Regions from separate parts of the Homo sapiens genome. Here region 1 is linked to region 2. The links come from fine-mapping of genetic effects on gene expression. A gene starts in region 2. The other region holds a variant in brackets. All regions are shown on one strand. Distances are from middle to middle.

Evidence for each region. PIP is the estimated chance that this variant, and not a neighbour inherited with it, causes the effect.
Region 1: its variant is fine-mapped to the expression of PRPF19 in whole blood (INTERVAL, PIP 0.99).

Annotation. Positions count from the first base shown.
Region 1 is chr11:60,860,141-60,870,410 of GRCh38, forward strand. ZP1 (zona pellucida glycoprotein 1) reads left to right here and starts at 7,402. Exons shown (of 12, transcript NM_207341.4): 1 at 7,402-7,617; 2 at 9,005-9,126; 3 at 9,397-9,760; 4 at 10,192-10,270. The coding sequence starts at 7,422. RefSeq lists silencers at 3,996-4,290, 4,137-4,354. The variant G/A (reference allele first, on the strand shown) is at 3,079.
Region 2 is chr11:60,901,311-60,912,620 of GRCh38, forward strand. It overlaps PRPF19 (pre-mRNA processing factor 19), which reads right to left and starts at 5,275. Exons shown (of 16, transcript NM_014502.5): 1 at 5,054-5,275; 2 at 2,402-2,551; 3 at 2,149-2,225; 4 at 1,430-1,571; 5 at 1,273-1,346; 6 at 1,093-1,155; 7 at 189-230; 8 at 1-59. The coding sequence starts at 5,072. It overlaps PRPF19-DT (PRPF19 divergent transcript), which reads left to right and starts at 5,469. Exons shown (of 2, transcript NR_186697.1): 1 at 5,469-5,533; 2 at 8,117-9,590. RefSeq lists a silencer at 4,868-4,967 and enhancers at 4,907-5,494, 5,608-5,727, 8,550-8,599, 9,310-9,619, 11,087-11,310.

The DNA of each region.
Region 1 (10,270 bases), 42 kb before region 2:
TGGCAGCTTTAAACAACAGAGACTTATTCTCTTACAGTCTGGAAGCCAGAGTCTGTAATCAGATGCCAGCACTTCCTCCGAAAGCTCTAGAAAAGGAGACTTTTTGGCCCCTCCAGCTTCTGGTGGCTCCAGGCGTCCCTTGGCTTAGGGCTGCATCACTGCAATCTCTACCTCCTCTTTACCTGGCCTTCCCCCTCCCTCTTTTCATGTGTCTCTCACAGAGTACTGGTCACTGGACTTAGGGCTCATCTGGATCATCCAGGGTGCTCTCATCTTGAGATTCTTAAATTGATTACATCTGCAAAGTCCTCTTATCCAAATAAGGCCACATTCACAGGTTCCAGGGGTTAGGTTGTGGACATGTCTTTTGAGGGCCACCATTCAACACAGTGAAAGCAATAATAGCTTCTGGGTACGGTGGCTCATGCCTGCAATCCCAGCACTTCGGGAGGATGAGGCGGACAGATCACTTGAGGTCAGGAGTTCGAGACCAGCCTGGCCAACAGGCAAAACCCCATCTCTACTAAAAATACAAAAATTAGCCAGGTGTGATGGTGCACGCCTGTAATACCAGCTATTCAGGAGGCTGAGGCAGGAGAATCGCTTGAACCCAGGAGGCAGAGGTTATGGTGAGCCGAGATCCTGCCACTCCACTCCAGCCTGGGTGACAGAGCGAGACGCCATCTCAAAAAAAAAAAAAAAAAAAAAATGAAAACAGTAATAGCTAACACTTATGGGGCACTCACTATGTGCCAGCGTAAGGCTGAAACTTGCTCATGGATGAGCTCATCAAATATTCACGCACCCCTCTGAGTTAGGTACCACTATCATCGTCACTCACCAAGGGGAAAACTGAGGCTCAGAGAGCTTAAGCAACCCTACCAAGCCTGCTCAGCTGGGGAGCAGAGGAGCTGGAGTTCAGAGCCATGTGGTCCAGCAGCAGAGCCCAGCTCTTCGCAGCTGATGAGATTCTCTGAGGTTCTTTGTTCCCTCAGGGGAAGCAGGGCTGCCTGTCTTCAGTTAAATGCGCTCCCACTGGCCTTCTGGGAGCATCTCTGCGGTGAGCACGGTCCATACATACACACACAGCTGGCGCTGCTCTTGGGTTACTCTGCAGGCCCCGGAGTGAGGCAGCCTGCTTCCTGCTGGTTTCCTGGCATGCATGGATCCCCTGAAAGGGGATTTTGTCTTTCCAGCCTAGAGAGGCTCCATCCTCCTCCAGTGCCTTCCCTAGGCTCTATTCACAGAGGAGACAGGGCAAGCAACTGATACTTACACGGCGCCCCACTTAGGTGGACTGTATTCTTAGTTCCATTTTATAGATTAAGAAACTCAAGTTCCAACTGGGTGCGGTGGCTCACGCCTGTAATCCCAGCACTTTGGGAGGCTGAGGCGGGCGGATCGCAAGGTCAGGAGATCGAGACCATCCTGGCTAACACGGTGAAACCCCGTCTCTACTAAAAATATAAAAAATTAGCCGGGCATGGTGGCCAGCGCCTGCAGTCCCAGCTACTCGGGAGGCTAAGGCTGGAGAATGGTGTGAACCGGGAGGCGGAGCTTGCAGTGAGCCGAGATCGCGCCACTGCACTCCAGCCTGGGCGACAGAGTGAGACTCTGTCTCAAAACAAAACAAAAAAAAAAAAAGAAAGAAAAGAAACTGAAGTTCCATTAAAAAAAAATTCATAGGTTAAAAACAGAAAGAAAGAAATGAACAAACAGGTTTACAAACAGGCCAAGTGGCCAGGTGTGGAGGCTCATGCCTGTAATCCCAGCACTTTGGGAGACAGAGGCGGGCAGATTGCTTGAGCCCAGGAGTTTGAGACCAGCCTGGGCAATATAGCAAGACCCCATCTCTAAAAAAAAACCCAAAAACCAGAAGCCAAGTGGATAAAGCCAAGATTCCAAGTCAAGTCACCTCCATCTGACCCTCTCTCTTTATCAATAAAAATAATCGTGGTTGTAATGGCTATCGTGTTCAAATGATGACCATGTGCAGACCCTGTTCTGCCTGCTTCACATGGATTATCTCATTTAATCCTCAGAGCAACCCTACAATTTAGGTGCTATTATAACCCCATTTTATAGATGAGGAAAGCAAGTCACAGAGCAGGGAAGGGACTTTTCCAAGGTCTCCAGTGGGTGAGCAGAGGAGCTGGGATCCTCCCAGGCTGATAATTCTTGGTGTCCATGAGTCTTTGCAAGAACGTAGAGTCGTAACCGAGGGCTCAGGGCGCTCGTGCGCGCTCTCTCTCTCTCTTGGATACTCTGGTACCCTTTTCCCAAAGGTGTTCTGCCCTTGGCCCTGAGGAAGCCCCCCTTCTCTTTCCCTGCCCATTTCCAGCACCTTGGGAGACGTACTTTCCCCATGGGTCCATGACCAGTGGGGAAACACCTCTCCGTGTCTTATGTAATTGCATCCCCACCATAATCATTCTCATCCTTACTCTCCAGATAGAGGAAAAAAGCCGGTAAGTGACTTCCCAGGGCCCTTGTGCTCATAAACAGTGAGCACCAGGCAAAATCCAGGCCTCTCAAAGACTCCAGCTGATTCTCTCTCTGGCCCCTAAAAGCCCCCGTTAGGAAAAGTTCTCTCTTATGATAGCAAATAAATGCAGAAGGAAGGGTAGAGTTAGAGAACCACCACCCACTTGGCAACCACACTAGCCAGTGAACATTTGAAGAGGAGCAGGATTGATTACATAGTCTCAAAGTATCTCCCTGTAAGATACTCATGAATTACAAAGAGAAACATCATTACTTTATGGTGGAGAAACCTGGCAGACACCACCTTATCCAAGTGATCAAAGTCACATCAGCAATAACAGGACAAGCCAGCGGGGTGTGCCTCGAGATACTGAGAAGGACACAACATCACTTCTGTACAAGCTGAATTGTATCCCCCCAAAATTCATATGCGAAATCCCTAACCCTCCACCCCCATCCCTCAGAATGTGACTGTATTTGGAGATAGAGCTTTTAAAGATGTGATTTAAGATTGAGCCCCTTAAGGTGGCCCTAATCCAATCTGACTGGTGTCCTTAGAAGAAGAGGAAATTTGTTTTTGTTTTTTGGGATGGA[G/A]TTTCACTCTGTCTTCCAGACTGGAGTGCAGTGGTGCCGTCTTGGCTCCCTGCAACCTCCACCTCCCAGGTTCAAGTGATTCTCCCACCTCAGCCTCCTGAGGAGCTGGGATTGCAGGTGTGCACCACCACACCCAACTAATTAGTTTGTATTTTTAGTAGAGATGGGGTTTCACCATGTTGGCCAGGCTGGTCTCAAACTCCTGACCTCAAGTGATCTGCCCACCTCGGCCTCCCAAAGTGCTAGGATTACAGGCGTGAGCCACCGTGCCAGCCAGAAGAAGAGGGAATTTGACCATTCAAAGAGACACCAAGGACGCACCAGCACAGGGGAAAGACCACGTGAGGACTCAGTGAGAAGACGGTTGTCTGCAGGCCAAAGAGAGAGGCCTCAGGAGCAACCAGACCTGCCACCACTTTGACCTAGCACATCCAGGCTCCAGAGCTGTGAGAAAAAGACTTATTTAAGCCACTCAGTCTGTATTTTGTTACAGCAGCCAAACGGACTAATACAAGGCCAAGATGCATCAACTAAATCTAATGTAACCAGGAGAAAACACCAGACAAACCCAAACTGAGGGCCATTCTGCAAAATCATCCGGCTGTACTAAAAAATGTCAAGGGTATGAAAGACAAAAGAAGATAGAAGGGCGGTCCCAGATCAGAGGAGGCCAAGAGGCACGCCAGCGAGACTCTGAGCCTGGATTGGATCCTGCAGACTCCCAAAACCACTGTACTCCTTTGCCATGAAAGTCACAGTTAGGACAGTCGGCAGATGTTGAGTAATTGTCAGAGCAGGAGCACCGTCATCTCGGACAAATACTGCCACTTTAAGCTCCAGCTCCCTTTCTAGCCTCATGCATTTCAAGGAAATCACTTCTCTTCTAACTACAACAGCCAGAAAGAGCAGACAGTAAAATACAGATAAGACAGCTCCGGCACAGAGCGGGGTGGAGGGAAGGTCTCTTTGGTAACTGCCAAACTTCACCCTCACACAATGAGCCCCAGTAAAACAGTGGGCCTTAATAAGCACATTCCTTTTCCTTCAGGGGCACTAAGATAGGGAAGCTAAAAGCAGACTCTGGGGATATGCCTGTAGCTGCAGAAAGATATATGGGAACAGACACACAACTCTCCCTCCCAGATACGCACAGCAAAGAGACACAGGAGCAGTCCAAGCCTCTGATAAACTCCCCCGCCCTGAATCCTTAACTCTTAATCTGTAAGAGAGTGGGGCTCTGACCTAACTCGGCCAGCCGCCCCTCTCAGGTTTACTCAACATAAACCTGTCCCTGTTGCCTGTTGAACCGCCCTTTCATGTTGCTTTCCTCTTTATTTCTTACAATAATGTCTGCAGATTAGATCGTTGTGTTTATACCATTGTTGGTTTCCTGATTTTGATCATTTGACTGTAGGGGTGATTTGTTTTTTTAGGAAATGTATACTGAAGCAATTAGAGGTAAAGGGGAATCTGTCATTTCTGCAACTGACTCTTGAATGATATGGAAGAATGTGTGCGTGTGTGCGTGTGCGTGCGTGTATGTCTGCACACATGCAGAGAGAGAAAGCGGGAGCTACAGCAAATGTAAAAAGTGAACAGTGAACATCTGAGGAATCTGGAGGAGGCTATATGGAAATTCTGCAAATCTGAAATAATTTCAAAATTAAAAGTTTAAAACTTCCACATCGTCCCTCAGGGAAAATCCACCCCACTCCCCGCTCCTGCCTGGCTCCTCTCCTTCCCCTCCTAGTCCTTCCCTCGCCAGCACCCTCAGCCTGCCTGGAGTCCTTGTCCTGGACCTTTGTGTGACCTGCTTCCTCCCTCCTCCTCCAGCTCTGCTCTCCCCAGATCCCCATTGCACCATCCCTGTCCTCCCCGCCTCCTCCCACCTCTGCTCAGGACCCCTTTCCTCCAAAAACACTTCCATGTCGCCCATCCTCGATGCTGTGTTGGGTGCCTCTTCCCACTGTGCCCCCAGAGGGACTCCCACCCCGCCCCACCAAGCTTTCCCAGCTGAGCTTTAATCACAGTAGAAGTGAATTATTGCCAAGCATTAAATCATTACTGCACCTGGTACCCATGACTTGTCTCTTTGTGTCTTCCTATCCACCATGTGGGCAAGGAAAGCATTATCACCCCCAGTTTACAAACAGGAAACCTGAGGCTCAGAATAGATAATGCATCTGAGTCACAGCTAAGAAAGTGGTTGGGGCACCATTAGAACCAACTTTTTTTGTTTAAACTTTTATTTTAGGTTCAGGGTTACTTATGCAGGTTTGTTATATAGGTAAATGCATGTCCAGAGGGATTGTTGTACAGATTATTTCATCACCCAGATACTAAGCCTAGCACCCAATAGTTATTATTTCCACCCTTCTCCTTCCTCTTACCCTCTACCCTTCAATAGGCCCCAGTGTGTGCCATTCCCCTCTATGTGTCCATATGTTGTCATCATTTAGCCTTCAGTTATAAGTGAGAACATGTGGTATTGGTTTCTGTTCCTGCATTTGTTTGCTAAGGATAATATCCTCCAGCTCCATCCATGTTCTTGCAAGAGATGTGATCTCATTCTTTTTTATGGCTGCATAGTATTCCATGGTGTATGTGTACCACATTTTCCTTTTTTTTTTTTCTTTTTCTTTTTTTTTTTTTTTTTTTGAGACAGAGTCTCACTCTGTCGGCCAGGCTGGAGTGCAACAGCACAATCTCGGCTCACTGCAACCTCCGTCTCCTGGGTTCAAGCGATTCTCCTGCCTCAGCCTCCTGAGTAGCTGGGACTACAGGTGCGTGCCACCACACCCAGCTAATTTTTGTATTTTTAGTAGAGACAGGGTTTCACCATGTTAGCCAGGATGGTCTCGATCTCCTGACCTCGTGATCCGCCCGCCTCGGCCTCCCAAAGTGCTGGGATTACAGGCGTGAGCCACCGTGCTCAGCATGTACCAGATTTTCTTTATTGAGTCTACCATTGATGGGCATTTGATTCCATGTCTTGGCTATTGTGAATCATGCTGCACTGAACATATGCACGCAGGTTCAGTGTCTTTATGATAGAACAATTTATATTCCTTTGGATATATACCCAGTAATGCGATTTCTGCATCAAATGATAGTTCTGTTTTCAGCTCTTTGAGGAATCACCACACTCCCACAGTGGTCAAACCAATTTACACCCCCACCAAGAGCGTATAAGCATTCCTTTTTCTCTGCAACCTCACCAGAACCGGGCTCTTAGCTATCAAGCCTCTTGCTCTCCCCTTCCAGCAGCTGCTAATTATAATAGCTGCATTTTCTAATGTTTGCTGAGCTCAAACGCTGCTGGGCCCTAGGCTAATCACTTGCAGGAATTAGTGCCAGGACGTGGGGCTGGTGACAGTCCCTTCCTCAGAGGATGGTCAGGCGGTATAAGGATCTAACACAAGCAAGACCTGGCACTGTAATCATGGCAGACCACAGGCCATTCTTGTTGTTTCCAGCCACTTTTATGTCTTAGAACTGTTCTAGATTTACAGAACTGAGAAGATAGTACAGACAGTTCCCATACACCGCAGGCCCAGTTTACCCCATAACTGATCTTACTTGAGTATGATACATTTATTACAATTAATGAACAAACAAATGTGGACACATTATTATTAACTAAAATCCACTTTCTTCACTTTTACTGCCTTTTTCTGTTCCACGATCCCATCCAGATGCCACATTACATTTAGTTGTCCTTGTTATTTTTTATTAGTCATAGTCATCATCATACTGACCGGCTGAATCCTCAGGAGAGCCCTTGGAGGTGCTACTGGTCTGTTTACTCACCTGCAGTCCCCATTCCGCTGCCAGCTCTGAGGGCTGTGTCTTCCTGGTCTTGCTCTAATGCCCCTAAAGCCCTGCCTGAGGAGCTGTGACTGTACTAACCAGGCCGGCAGCTCCCAGTGGTCCTGAGGCCTCAAGGCAGGAAGGAGGACCTGGAGAGCCTGTTGGGGCAGGAAGGGAATGCAGAAAGGCTGGGGTGAGAGGGAGACAGTGGAGGGCCTGAGGTCTGCAGTGCCACCTCCTAGCCCTGGATCCCTTCCCACAGCCCATCTGCAACCTCAGTTTTCTGGAAAGCTCCCTCCTCCCTTCCAAAGCCACAGCTGTGAGACAGAAAGCCAGGGTGAGGGGCCACGTGCAGCTTTCTGCCTCCCGCTGCCTTTGGAACAGGAGTTTCACCACAGCCCCTGGTGGCCAGGTGGGTGCTCCTCCAGGTGGGCCCCCTTTGCCCTTACAGGCACCCACTTGCCACCTCCTCCATAAAAGGCCTGGGCCCAGCTCTGGTGGCGAGGGAGTAGGGGGTGTGTCTGTGGCGTCTCATGGCAGGAGGCTCAGCCACGACCTGGGGTTACCCTGTGGCCCTGCTACTGCTGGTTGCCACCCTGGGGCTGGGTAGGTGGCTCCAGCCCGACCCTGGCCTCCCAGGCCTCCGGCACAGCTACGACTGTGGGATCAAGGGAATGCAGCTGCTGGTGTTCCCCAGGCCAGGCCAGACTCTCCGCTTCAAGGTGGTGGGTGAGTGCTGGCAGAGTCCTGGCCCCTGCCTCCCTGGCCACGGGCTGCTGCCAGAAGGGAGCTGGGACCCTTCCCCTGAAGGAGCAAGAACAGAGGCCTCCCTCCAGCCTGGGGGTGTCCAGCCCCCCACCCCCTCACCACAGAAAAGGGCAAGGAGGAGAATCATCACCCAGGGCAGCTTCTCCCACGTTAGTGTGCATGGGAAACACCTGGCCACCTTGTTGAGGTGCAGGTTCTGATTCAGTGGACCTGGGGCAGGGCCAAGCCTCTGCATTTCTTTTCTTTTTTTTTTTTTTTTCTGAGACAGTCTCACTTCTTTCAATCTGTTCTCCAGGCTTGAGTGCAGTTGGCACGATCTCAGCTCACTGCAACCTCCACCACCCAGGTTCAAGCAATTCTCCTGCCTCAGCCTCTTAGTAGCTGGGACTACAGGTGTGTGCCACCACGCCCAGCTACTTTTTGTATTTTTAGTAGAGATGGAGTTTCACGATATTGGTCAGGCTGGTCTCGAACTCCTGACCTCAGGTGATCCACCTGCCTCAGCCTCCCAAAGTGCTGGGGTTATAGGCGTGAGCCACTGCACCCAGCCTAGGCTCTGCATCTCTAACCACGCTCAGTCAAAACTGAGGCTGAGGGTCCATAAACCACTTCCAGCAGCAGGACCTAGTAGGCGTGGCCTGGTGTGGGTTTAGAACTGGGGTTTGGATCTGCAGCTTCTAAACGGGATGATTTTGGACAACTGACCTGACTCATAAGCCTCTGTTTCCTCATCTGCAAGGTGGGGAAGATGAACCTGGCCGTGCTCATGGAACAAGGGCATGGGGACATGCCCACACCCAGGGAATGCCCAGGCTGTTCTGGGGCAACAAGCAGGGTGGACACCTAGGGGGTGTCTCCAAGCAACTGCAGCAGCCACAGTTAACCTGGGAAATGGGTTCAGATCTTTCTACAAAGCCCAGGATTCAAATCCTCATTCTGCCCCTCATTGTGTGCACCTAAGAAAGCTCACGCACCCTCCCTTCCTCAGCTGCCTCAGCCACAGGATGTGGATAACTAAGCTTAAAAGAAGTGATGTGAAATACTCAGGCCAGTGCCTGAGACCCTGTGTATCCCTTCTCCACCTCATCTTCGTGCCTGCCTGCTGCCGTGTGCTGTGAGCAGGGAACCCTAGCTAGAAAGATCCTAAGACCCTCCCATCCCCTTACAGCTGTGGAAACTGAGAGCAGAGAGGGGAGGGGGCTTGCCCAAGACCACACAACAAACTAATAGCAAAGCTAAGGCAAGAACCCAGGTCTCCTGGCTGCTGAGTGGGAACTCCTTCCGAGACCCCAGCAACCTCTCCCTGCACCCTTCAACATCCCTGGCCCCTCCCCTTCCCCCACTGCAGATGAATTTGGGAACCGATTTGATGTCAACAACTGCTCCATCTGCTACCACTGGGTCACCTCCAGGCCGCAGGAGCCTGCAGTCTTCTCGGCCGATTACAGAGGCTGCCACGTGCTGGAGAAGGTAGGGGTTGTTCATGCTCTGGCACAGGGGCAAGCTTGTCCTAGTGTCATGTCAGGCTGAAGAGGCCCCTCATGAACCAGAAAGGAGCCAAAGCCGAAGATCTGTTGAGCTGGTGGGTGAGGGAAACTAAGCTCTGGAAGGTACTTTCTGGAATCCACCATGAATCCAGCTCCCTGCCTAATGGCCAGCTCAGCTCTCGTGGGCCCGTCCCCTGCCTGGGTATGCTAGGTGGCCTCACCTTGCTGCTCTATGATGGCCTCTCACCTGCAGGATGGGCGTTTCCACCTGAGGGTGTTCATGGAGGCTGTGCTGCCCAATGGTCGTGTGGATGTGGCACAAGACGCTACTCTGATCTGTCCCAAACCTGACCCCTCCCGGACTCTGGACTCCCAGCTGGCACCACCCGCCATGTTCTCTGTCTCAACCCCACAAACCCTTTCCTTCCTCCCCACCTCTGGCCATACCTCCCAAGGCTCTGGCCATGCCTTTCCCAGCCCACTGGACCCAGGGCACAGCTCTGTCCACCCAACCCCTGCTTTACCATCCCCTGGACCTGGACCTACCCTCGCCACCCTGGCTCAACCCCACTGGGGCACCTTGGAACACTGGGATGTGAACAAACGAGATTACATAGGTACGCAGGACATCTGAGTGTACTTACCCTCTGTCTGGGGACTTCTGGAGTACAGGGTGGCCTAACAGCCTTTTACTGGGCTCTAAGCCATTTCTTTTTTTGTTTTTTTCTTTTTTTAGAAAAAGATGATTCTTTTATTCCTTTGTAGTATTTGGAAAACAGCTTTAAACATGTATAGGTGTACTAAAGCTAGAAGAGGTCTTGTAAATTTGTTTCCTAACTTTAGGCAGAAACTCATTGAAACCATTGCCAGCAACACCTGATTCTCAGAAAATATTCTCTAGAAATTTCAGTAATATTCAGTTTTGAGGGAGGACATTTACTGTGCTGGCTAAGAGCACAAGCTCTGGAGCAGGTTCCCAAGATTCAATTCCAGGGCCATGATTTGCAAACTGTGTGCCTTCAGCCTCATCACTCTGTCCCAACCCTAGGTACCCACCTGAGCCAGGAGCAGTGCCAGGTGGCCTCAGGGCACCTCCCCTGCATCGTGAGAAGAACTTCAAAAGAAGC
Region 2 (11,310 bases):
TGCCGGTATTTGCTGAGCTCTTCTGGCTTCACCAGCTCCTCAGGCACAGTCTTCCCTCTCTGAGAAAATGAAAAGCCCCCAAAGAAGAGCAGCAATGAATCCAAGATTCAGCCGCCCTCTCTCTCCTAAGGAGTCAACCGCCTCCCACCAGGCCAGCTCTTTCTCCAGGCTTCAGAAAGAGAACTCACCTTCTTGCGCTCCGTGGTTAGCACAGTGGCTTTGTCTTGAAGCTGGGGAAGAACAGGCTCAATGTGAGACAAATCATCTTGCAAGGAGAAAAGTACATTAGATGCTGGTCACACCTGTGCTTTCAAAAGCAGCACCAAGAACTTGCTATCTGCCAACTTCTACGTTACAGGCTTAAAGGCATTCTCTCTTCTTACTTCCATCCCAGCTTTATGAGGGGGGTGTTGATGACCTTATTTTACAGCTGAGGAAACTGAGCCTCAGAGAAGTGAAGTCAATTGCCCAAGGTCGCAGAGGTGATAAACAGCAGAGCAAGAATAGAAGCTAGGACTGTAGAGCTCCCATAGGTCTACACGCCACTAAGCCAAGGGCTCAGACACATGCTGACAATTTGAACTGCTCAGAAAGACACTAAGAAGCCCTGCAAATGAGAATCCCACTGGACTTGCAATCAGGAAGCCCAGCTCTGCCTCTCAGATGTGTCTTTCATCTGCAAAATAAGGATTATAATTCCTATCCTATTGCCCTCATAGAAAAAAAACAAGAAAATATATAAAAGTAGTTTACTATCTGCAAAGAATCTCAATAACAATAAGAGCTAAAAGGTGCACTTATCAGTAATGAAATCTTTTAAATTCCCACAGCCTGCCTATACAGTGGATATGATCATATTCTCAGTTTAGAAGCTAGGGAAATGAGACACGTAAGGGTTGGCTAAGTAAGCCAAGGTCATAAAGCTTACAAGTAGTGGCATCAAAATACAAACCCAGGCAATCTGGTCCCAGGGTCCATGCTCTGCACCACTCAACTCCCAAAAGCACAGTGATTTTAGTCACGATGGACTCCAGACAGATGGTGAAAAGTAAGGGCCCATCAGCACTCCCACCAGGTGAGAGCAGGACTTACCTTCTGAATAATCTCTGGGGTCATTCCCACCAGCTCACCCAAATCCATTGGCTCACCCGCACCCTGAAGAGAAGAAAGGTGAGGGTGAGAGGCACAGAGCACCAAAGACACCTGCATAAGGACAGTTCTGTGGGCCACTGTACACAAATGGGCTGCTGGTAAGGGAAGGGGGACACTTACCACAACACTTGGTTGGGAACTTGGCACAGCCTGGGGCACAATGAGGCCAGCCTGTGGTTTCAGGGTAGCCAGAGCTGAGAGAAAAGACGATGTTAGAAATGGGATATTACAATGCAGAACCAGCCCAGGGTGGGGGATGGCAGGGGAGAGGCTGCACCTTCTCGGGCAGCAGTGACTTCCTTGGTGAGACGGGCAATGACACGGCAGGCGGCATCGTGCTGGTACAGAGCGTGTGACAGCTCTTGGCGGGTTGTCTGCAGCTGCTGGCGCAGAGTGAAGCTGTGCAGCATGACTGCATCCTGGGAGAAGCAAATATCATTGTAAGGTGAGGTGGGGGGTGCAGGGAGTACCCAGTGGAGTCAGCCCTTGGGGAGGGGATGCTGCCTCCTATCCCAGAGCCTAGACCAGTATCAGTGACCCAAACAATATCCGAGCAAACACGAATGTGCCGGCAGACACTCTTGAGCTCCTACCCCAAGCGAACCACTGGGCACACAGACAGGAGTGGGAGCCAGCTCTTTCCCATCCCCACCTTCCCTAACTTACTGGCAAATCCCAGCTGTCATGCCGTCCCCTCTCTAAAAGAGAATAACAACACTGCTGCTGCTGCTATTTATTGATCGCCCTCGTTGTGTCAGGCACTGTGCCAGACAGTCCTGCAGGATGTATTCAATCATTCAATTCATAACTCTAGAGCACCTACTATGTACCAGGTGCTGCTCTCAGTGCTGGGGATACAACGAAGAATAAAACAAATCCCTGATGTCACAAAGTTTACCCTCTAAATAATGCTCCATCCTTCCTACCCCCAAGTCCTAACCCAGCAATGCATTCTCTTCAAGTGGGGAAGATGCTGATTCTCTTGCAGGAACTCACCCACTCATCCTGCAAAGCTTTCAGAATGGCCGGGATGCTGGTGGCTGAGGGAGGCTTGGGCCGGATTGGGTGAGCAACTGCCGAAAGGGAAAGCAGGTATGAAGAACATAACCCAGGGGCCTCCCCCGCCATCACATCTTTTCCTTTTAGCCATAAACAGCCCACCATCTCTTCCTCCAGTGCACTGGCACCACCTCCCATCCTCTCAGGCTCTGAGCTAAGATGGCCCTAGACTAAGGCAGCCAATAGGCACCTTTGATGTCGATGAGCTGCTCCTCGGAGAGAGGCTGGTTGTTGATGGGGTCGGTACCATTCTCCGCAATGTACTTCTCGATGAGCCGCCGCTCATAAACATGATTAGAGACAGGGGATACACATGGGTGCTCCGGCACTTCGTTAGAGACTGTAGAGAAAAGGCTGGTAGTGAGCTTGGAGTGAAGGCAATCTTGGGCCTAGAGGATTCCTCATCTGCTATTAGCCCCAACAAGACTAGGCATCCTCACACTCAACTAGCAGAAAGCAAGACATTTGACCCTAAGCCAGTTCTGTACTGGCCCCAGAATGCTTTCCAGCTATGGAACTACCTTTTCCTTTAGTCTCCTGACTGAGGAGATAGTCTCCTGACTATCTGACAATCATATAGTCAACAAATAATTATTAACAACTACTATGTGCCAAGCACCTAGAGAATAGCAGTCCATTATCACCACCTCATATCTGAACAATGATTGTGTACTCTATGAATACAGTTTACTCCATGACATGGAGATACACATGAAGCCATTCAAATCCCTGCCATCCATCTTAGTCTATAGCTCCAGACAGATTATCAAAGAAATTATAAAGTCTGAGAATACAGGAATAACAAACTCAGTTTCTCCTATTCTCTGACAAAACAAAATACTTCTGTGACCTCAGATGTGACCATCTGGGTGTCCTCCAATTCAATTCTGACACCAGGTACCTGGAGATAGTGTCAGATCATACAGGTTGAGGTCTCAGTCCCACCAGACTCCCCGCCCCTTCAGATGCCAATCGCAAGCCCCAGGTTGTTTGACCTGTTCTTCTGATCTACCAGCTGTAAATCAGGGTTCCCATGACCTCCTTTTTGGGTTCAATTAATTTGCAACAGTGACTCAAACAATTGTGGGAAACACTTATGTTTACCAGTTTATTGTAAAGGATATTACAAAGGATACAGATGAAGAGGAGCATAGGATGAGGTATGGGAGAAGTACAGAGCTTCCCATGCCTTCCCTGGGCACCCCACCCTCCAGGAACCCCCACATGTTCTGCTATACAGAAGCTCTTTGAATCCTGTCCTTTTGTATTTTTATGAAAACTTCATTACAAAGGCATGATTCAATAAATCACTGGTCACTAGTGACGACTTCAGTTCCTCTCATTTCCCCAGGTAAATGGGGGGTAGGACTGAAAATCCCAACCTTCTAATACCCTTTAGTCTTCCTAGGTGACCAGTCCCCATCCTGAAGCTATTGAGTCTACCAGCTACCAGTCAACTGATTAGCGTACAGACACTTATCACCTGGAAGATTCCAAGGAGCAAAGTGGCAATCGCTACAATAAAAATATTTAAAAATATTTACATGGCACATTTGCATGGCACATTTCTATGTGCCAAGCACAATTCTAGGCATACAGTACAGTAATTCATCTTCACAACAACCCGCAATAGAGGTATCATTTACACTCTTGCCTGCGTAGACTGTGCACCCCTTGAGGATAAGGATTACAGCTGGTCTCTCACTTCCAGTACAATGCAGATGCCCCCAGGGCACTCGGTAAACATCTAACAAATGAGTGAACCATGCCAGGAAGGATGGTGCTGGGGAACGTAAAAGAGAGCTTCCCGAAGATTGGAAGGAAACAATAAATGTGAAGGTACTTTGCGAGCTGTAATTTCTTCAAAGTGAGGGATTCCTTTTCCATCATTTCCCTTCCTTCTTCCCCCTCTTTGGATCAATGTACAGGTTCTGAGAAGAGAAGGAAGTGAATAGCAAAAGGGAGGGGAAACGAGTAATCTGATGAAACAACGAAAAGGGAAAGGAAAATGTCTGTACGTCATGATAAAATATCAAAGGGAAAGATAGTGGAAGGTATGAAAAAAGCATGGATTCAGGGTCCAAGATCCGTGTCACCTAACTACGTCACCCAGCTCTGCCACTGACTAGCTACGCATCCTTAGATAAGCCCCGCTCTTCCTGCGCCTTGCATCCTCATCTGCAAAACCAGGATCTTTATTTCTCCTTTAGGGAATTCTTGTGAGGATAAAATGAGATCATAGACTTGGAAGCGCGTTGTAAACCAATAAGGGCTTATAAATGTGCGCTGTTTTTATTAGTCATACAGTGTAAGGCTGGGAGCCAGATACCTGGCTGCCAGCCTTGCCTCTACCTCTAACTCATCATGTGACCTTTGCAAATTGCAAAAGCTCCGACTATCCGAGCGAGGCCTCGCAAAACATCCACTGCAATGCTCTCGATTTTGCAGATGGGGAAACCGAGGCCCAGAGCCTTGAGCCAATTCATAAAGCCAATGGGAGGCGGACCCTGGACAAGACCTCGAGTTTTCTGACTCCTACATTAAGGCTGCTTCCCTTGCACCAGCTCTCTCTGTCCAGACCTGTTTCCACTCTGTAGAATGAGGCGACCGGCCTCAGTAATGTCTGCGACAATAAACCTCAGGCACTATGTAAACTGCGGGGCACTGCGCAAATGCACCCCGCTCCGACGGGGGGGGCTCCGGTGCTGACAGGCCGCCGCTCGGCCTCCGGAGCGCCCCATTCCCGCCTCCACCCCGGCCCGGGCGCCGCAGCGGACCGCACACGCTCCCGCGCCGCTCTCTGGCCTCCTGAGACCCGCGCTTGGCCGCAGCCAACACTCACTGGAGCAGATTAGGGACATGGCGCCGTCACCGTGCTCCGAGGCGCCACACGCCGGGCTCCGGGACTAGCTTCTGAGCCTCCGCGAGCCACTTCCGGTCCCCCGCTGCTGCCGGGACTGCTCCGCGGCGAGCTGGGAGCCGCCAGCCGAGCGATGCTAGCGTAGCGCTTCACGTGGGAATGGGGACAGCCGCGCGCCACAGCCTTCAGCACCTAACGGAAATTGCCCTTTCCCAGAATGCAGCCGGGCAGGAAAGGGCCCGCCACGAACACTCGGTTATTTCCGGATTGACTCGGCTCGTTCCGTAAAGCGCCGGAGGATTGGCTGGGGCGTCGGGAGAGAGGAGGCTCGAAACTACATTTCCCATGACGCAGTGAGAATTTAAAACCAAAACAATTGGACAGCACTTGTTTTGACAACTGTGCGGCACTGTGCCACGGGACCCTGGTCTTTGAAACCTTGGCGTGCGCGAGAATTTCCCAGTGAGTTTGTTAAAATGCAGATTCCTCGGGTCTGCGTAGACAGACTGTGCCCCACGCTTTTCTAAGTCAGTTGTTTCTCGGGCTACCCTTTAAGAGACACTGCTGGATGGCCTGGTGAAGAAAATACAGAAACAGATGGGTACAAGAACTAAGAAAACGGCTAAGAAAGTGTTTTGGTCCTGACTACTACCATTTCGCTCTGTGATTTGGGGCAATTCACATTGCCCTTTCTTCTTTGTCAAAAGACAAAATCACAACAAACTTAGTTCAAAGATTTTTTTTTTCTTAAGAGACGGACTCTGGCAATGTTGCCCAGGCTGGAAGGCAGTGGCTATTCACAGGTGCGGTCATAGCAATCATGGCTATCACAGGTGCATCCTGGAACTCCTGGCCTCAAGTGATCCTTCTGCCTCAGCCTCCGGAGTAGCTGGGACTTAAGGTGCGATTCTATAGAATTGGGCAGTGCCTCATACTATAAAATATAATGGTTGTTCCAATGAGCTGAACAGGAGAACTTGGTTTTATAGACAGAAAAGGACTGAGGAAAACAGGAACAGAGAACAAAAAGCGGATTGGTCATTTGGTAATTTCAAAATTACTTTTCTTGTAAAGGTTAAAGTGGAGGGGACTTATCATGCCACCTAAAACTTGCCTGTTTGGGAATTTAGCTCCCCCCTACACACACACACACACACACACACACACACACACACATACACACTCAGAAGGTCGTAAAGATCTTCGTTTCAGCTTATTGGCGTGGAGCTTCAGCAGGACTAACTCTTTTTAGCTTGGTCTGTTAGGCCTAGCAGAAGAGCTCAGTCCAAACCAATGGCCTCCTATAAATTTCTTTATTTTGTATTTTGGATTTTGTATTTTCTATTTCTCTTCCAGCTCAGATAGTGTATGATTCTTTGTGGATATCTGTAAGATAAGATACTCTCAGGAATCATGCAAAAGACGTGGTGTGGACTGTAAGGTATCAAGACAAAAGGGCAGGATGAACAGGATGTGAGTGAGAGGGACTTTGACAGGTGGGCAGTATTCAGAGGAGAAGGAGAACGAAAGGCATTCCGGAAGAAGAAACAACGTAAGCAAAAGCTTGGAGAGAAAAATAAAAGTTACAGGTACAAAAGGCAATATGGCATAGTGGCCAAGAGCATGGACTCTGAAGTCAGACTGTGTGCTCAAATCCTAGCACCACTCAGGTGATTGGCAGTATGAACTTCTCTATGCCTTAGTTTCCTCATCTGTAAAACAGAGGGAGTGATGACAAGGGTAGAACTAACTCACTGAACTCTTATGAAGAGTTAATATGCAAAAGGGCATCTCATCTCTGTCTTGCACCAACAAAGTAACTTCCCACTTGTTCCTTGCTTCCAGCCTGGCCTCCTCCTCCTAATCTACTTTCCACAGAGCAGACAGTGATCCACTTTGAACGAAATATCTATTCATGTTATTCCCCAGGCATTTCATTCATCCAACAAATATTGATTGGGTGCTTCCTATGTGCCAAGCCCTATTGTAAAAACTGGAGATAGAAAAGGTCAACAAGAAAGACACAGTTTCTGCTGTCTTGGAGCTTACACTCTACTGTGGGTGGTGGGAGCACAGAGACAATCAACACTTAAGAAGAAAATTCCAGAGTAGTAAGTGCTATGAATACAACAAATCAGAGCAAGGTAGACAGAGGTGCTGGGGATTGGAGGAACGGCTACTTGAGGCAGGGCACTTAGAGAGTGCATCACTGAGGAGCTGATTTTTTTGCTGAGAACTGAATGAGGGTATGGAGCAAAAAAGTTTCCCCTCTGCCCTCTAAAGATTTGCTGAAATTAACTGACAATCGACAGAATAACAGGAGAAAAGGCATACAAGTGTATTAGTGTGTGAGTGTGCACAGGAGTAATACAAAATATGAGGCTCAAAGAAGGAACAGGTGGCTGATGCTTACTTAAATGGCACCCAGGAAAGACGGAGATGGGGGAAATGTAGGCAATTTTGAGGGCTAGCAAATAATTTTTAGGGAGGGCTAGCAAATAATTTTTAGGGGAAATGAATGAGCCCCAAGAACAAACAATGCCTTGGGACAAAGTTCTTATGAGCTCTGGAGGAGGTGGCAACAAATTGTGGGAAGGTGAGGGGCAGAACTCCATTGTGAACAAAGGTTGTCTTATTATGCACATAAGGTCTCTCAGGTAATCTGTTAGAGCTCCCATCAGAAGAATAGATTAAAAGTCTCTCTAGGTGTAGTGGTGAGTTGGTGACTTTTAGTTTTTATTCTTCTCCAGTGGTTAATCTTTCCTGGTTATTTGATGAGTTTCCTGTGGAGGGAGATTTGAGACAATTGCATTTCTTCTGAAAGAAATTTTCTCAGTCAGATAAGGGAACTTCTAGAGAGAGCTTCTCCCTGTACTTAGGGTGGGGGTCAGGGGGCAAGAGAAGGTTAGAAAGTCCTTGGTTCTAAGGCAGCTTCTAAGACCTTCCCATTTCTTTTCATTCAAAAGTGCTCAGCATGCTGTAACCTCAGGACCAATCCAAACTGGGCCTACTCTTTTGATAACAGAATGTCATGTTCTCTTGTAGGTATGACAGAGCCAAAACTCCAAGTCATGTCAGTAGGGCATGCCCAATAGAAAATGCTTTGACATCTAACAACACCCAGAACCAATGATTCCTCCCTGTGGTACCAAGAAGACCTAGACATGATCGGAACCTAAATGCTGGAACTCTTTCAGGAGCAAAGGGTCTGTTGACCAGAAAGATCCAGGGGTAAAATCCACCTCAACATACCCGTGTAGTCAAATTTGACACCCTCCAATCAGACCCTGCCAAGCCAAAATTCCTAATACGTTTCCTTGCCATCTGTATTAGTCTGTTTTCACGCTGCTGACAAAGACATACCTGAGACTGGACAATTTACAAAAGAGGTTTAATTGGACTTACAGTTCCACGTGGCTGGGGAAACCTCACAATCATGGCAGAAGGCAAGGAGGAGCAAGTCACATCTTACATGGATGGCAGCAGGCAAAAACAAAGAGCTTGTACAGGGAAACTCCTGTTTCTCAAAACCATCAGACCTCATGAGACTTATTCACTATCACAAGAACAGCACAAGAAAGACCTGCCCCTATGATTCAATTATCTCCCACTGGGTCCCTCCCACAACATGTGAGAATTCAAGATGAGATTTGGGTGGGGACACAGCCAAACCATATCACCCTCTGACCCCTTAAATCTTGCCCCAGACCCCAAATTAGGAGACAGATGTGAGCCATGCCTCCAGTCTCCTTGCTGGGTGGCCCTGCAATAAAGCCTTTCTGTTCTCAAAAGCTGGTACCATAGTATTGGCTTCTATGTGCATCAGGCAGTGAGCCTATTTGCTCAGAAACAATACTAAAGCACCATACTTTGGGGTATCATTCTCTGAGCCCCAACCAGGGGTCATTCCTGAGGCCATGAATGAGGGAGAGAGTTTCTGGCTGAGGAAACTTGCCCGTAAGTCTTGCACCATCTGGCCCATGCTGACCATCACAGTCTCACTTTATCTTCTTTCCAGCCACATTGGCCTTTCAGTTCCTCAAACATACCCGCGCTGGCTGGTTTCAGAACTTCTGCCTGGATCACTGTCCTCTCCCCCCTCCCTCTTCCCCCTCCTGTCTCAAACCCTCCAATGTAAACTTCAGTCTCACCTTAAATGTCACTTCCTCTGGAGCCCTTTTCATGGTCCCTGGTTTAAATTTAGTCCATACAGCAAACTGTGATTGTCCTCCAAACCACTTCAAAGAACTGTAATCATTTAATTATCTATTTATAAGTATCTGATGTCTGGGTTCTTCACTAGACTGTAAACTTCATGATGGCAGGAACCATAATTGTTCTGGTTACTCTTGCTCTCAAGAGTGTAAGAGTGCCACATTGTGCCTGGCACATAGCAGGAACTTTATGATGATTGTTGGTTGGAAGACAGGTTGCCTGACAGGCCAGTCATCTCAACTACTGTACTTGGATGTGTGGTTGGAAATAAAATGGATCCGTTTAGGAGAGGCCTTGAACCCAAGGTGGTAAAACTTGGGTGGTGATTGGGCTGGCAGCACAACAGCATGTGTTTGCATTTGAGCTATGGAGTGATAACCATACTTTCAGAAGTTTCCTCTGGAAGACACTTACTGGATGGGTTGGAGTGGGACAGACTAGAAGGAGGGAGACTCAGTAATTAATTGTTGAACCAATCTTTATTGAGTACCCATAGCGTGTCAGCCCGGCACGATACTAGGTGTTGGTAGTATCACAATGAGCAAAACCAGAGGTGTCCCTCTACTGGGGAGTTTATGGCTATGATAGCAGGATGCAGGAAAAAGGAAGTCCTGTCAAGGCTTTTCCGTTTCATAAGCCAGCCCACAGGGAATAGAAAAAATTCAGGGCACTTGGTTTCAGAGAAACAGGGAGAGTTAAGGGAAAAGAGATATATGCATTGGTGCTGGTGGGTCCCTGAGGAAGGAACTCTATGCCTTGTTCCTCCCAGACCAAAGCTGCTGTTGCTGCCTGGGGAGCATGGGGACACATTGGCCAAAGACCCAAAAGAAGCTTAATTTCCCAGGTATCTTCAGTAGCAATCTGTGTGGATAAGTGACAGAAGATTAGTCAGGGAGAAGTTGCCAGCTTAAACAACTGACACTGATAATTAGATGAATTTTCTTTTTTTCTTTTTTTTTACATGGAGTCTCACTCACTGTCACCCAGCTGGAGAGCAGTGGCGTGATCTTGGCTCACTGCAACCTCTGCCTTCTGGATTTAAGTGATTCTCCTGCCTCAGCCTCCTGAGTAGGGATTACAGCACACACCACCACACCTGGCTAGTTTTGTTTGGTATTTTTAGAGAGACAGGGTTTCATCATTTTGGCTAGGCTGGACTTGAACTCTTTCACCTCAAGTGATCCCTCTGCCTCAGTCTCCCAAAGTGCTGGGATTACAGGTGTGAGCCATTGCCCCCGGCCAGGATTAGATACATTTTCTCCCCCAACTTTGGCCCTATATTCATTTTCCAAAAGGTGTCTACGACCTGAAAATCAAGGATGGGAAGAACCCTGAACTGTCTGAGACTGTTTCTACTACCCACATGGAAAAGAGAGTTGAAAAGAAATTAATTTGTCATAGAAAAAAAAAAAGGTTAAATTTCTTTCCCAGGAAAGTCTGTGACCTGAGATTGTTAATCTTAGACATCAGAAAGGATCGCACAAGCAAATGTAAAATTGAAACTGTTAGAAAAGCTGGAAGGTGAGGTTTAGGATGCTACCAGAGCCTGTCCTGGAAGAAGGACTCTTAGCTGAGGGGCAGGAAGTGACAAGAGCTCAGATGAAGATGGATGTGTCTGAGGAACATCTGATGGAAAGAAACAACTGGGTGAGGTGACAGATTGGGAGCCTACAGAGTGTGTACTCTAGGAGGAAGGCAGAACTGGAAGGCTGAATGGTTGGGGGTGGGAGGGAAGAGTTACGTTTTAGAGGGTTGAGTTTGAGAAACAAGTTTTAACATCAAAAGGAAGCTCTCCTATGACAGCTCTTGATGGTGATAAAAACATTCAGTCAGCAACCTGGATTTTTTTTTTTTTTTTTAATGTTCATGCTTGTTGCTTCCTTGAAACTTCACACCTACTGTGAAGTGGTATTTTTAGGTCCTTTATAGTTCTTGAACGTCAAGCAATGAAGGCTCAGAGAAATGAAGCTGTGTGCTCAGGATCACACGACAGGCAAGAGATCACCTCATTCTGAAGCCCTGTT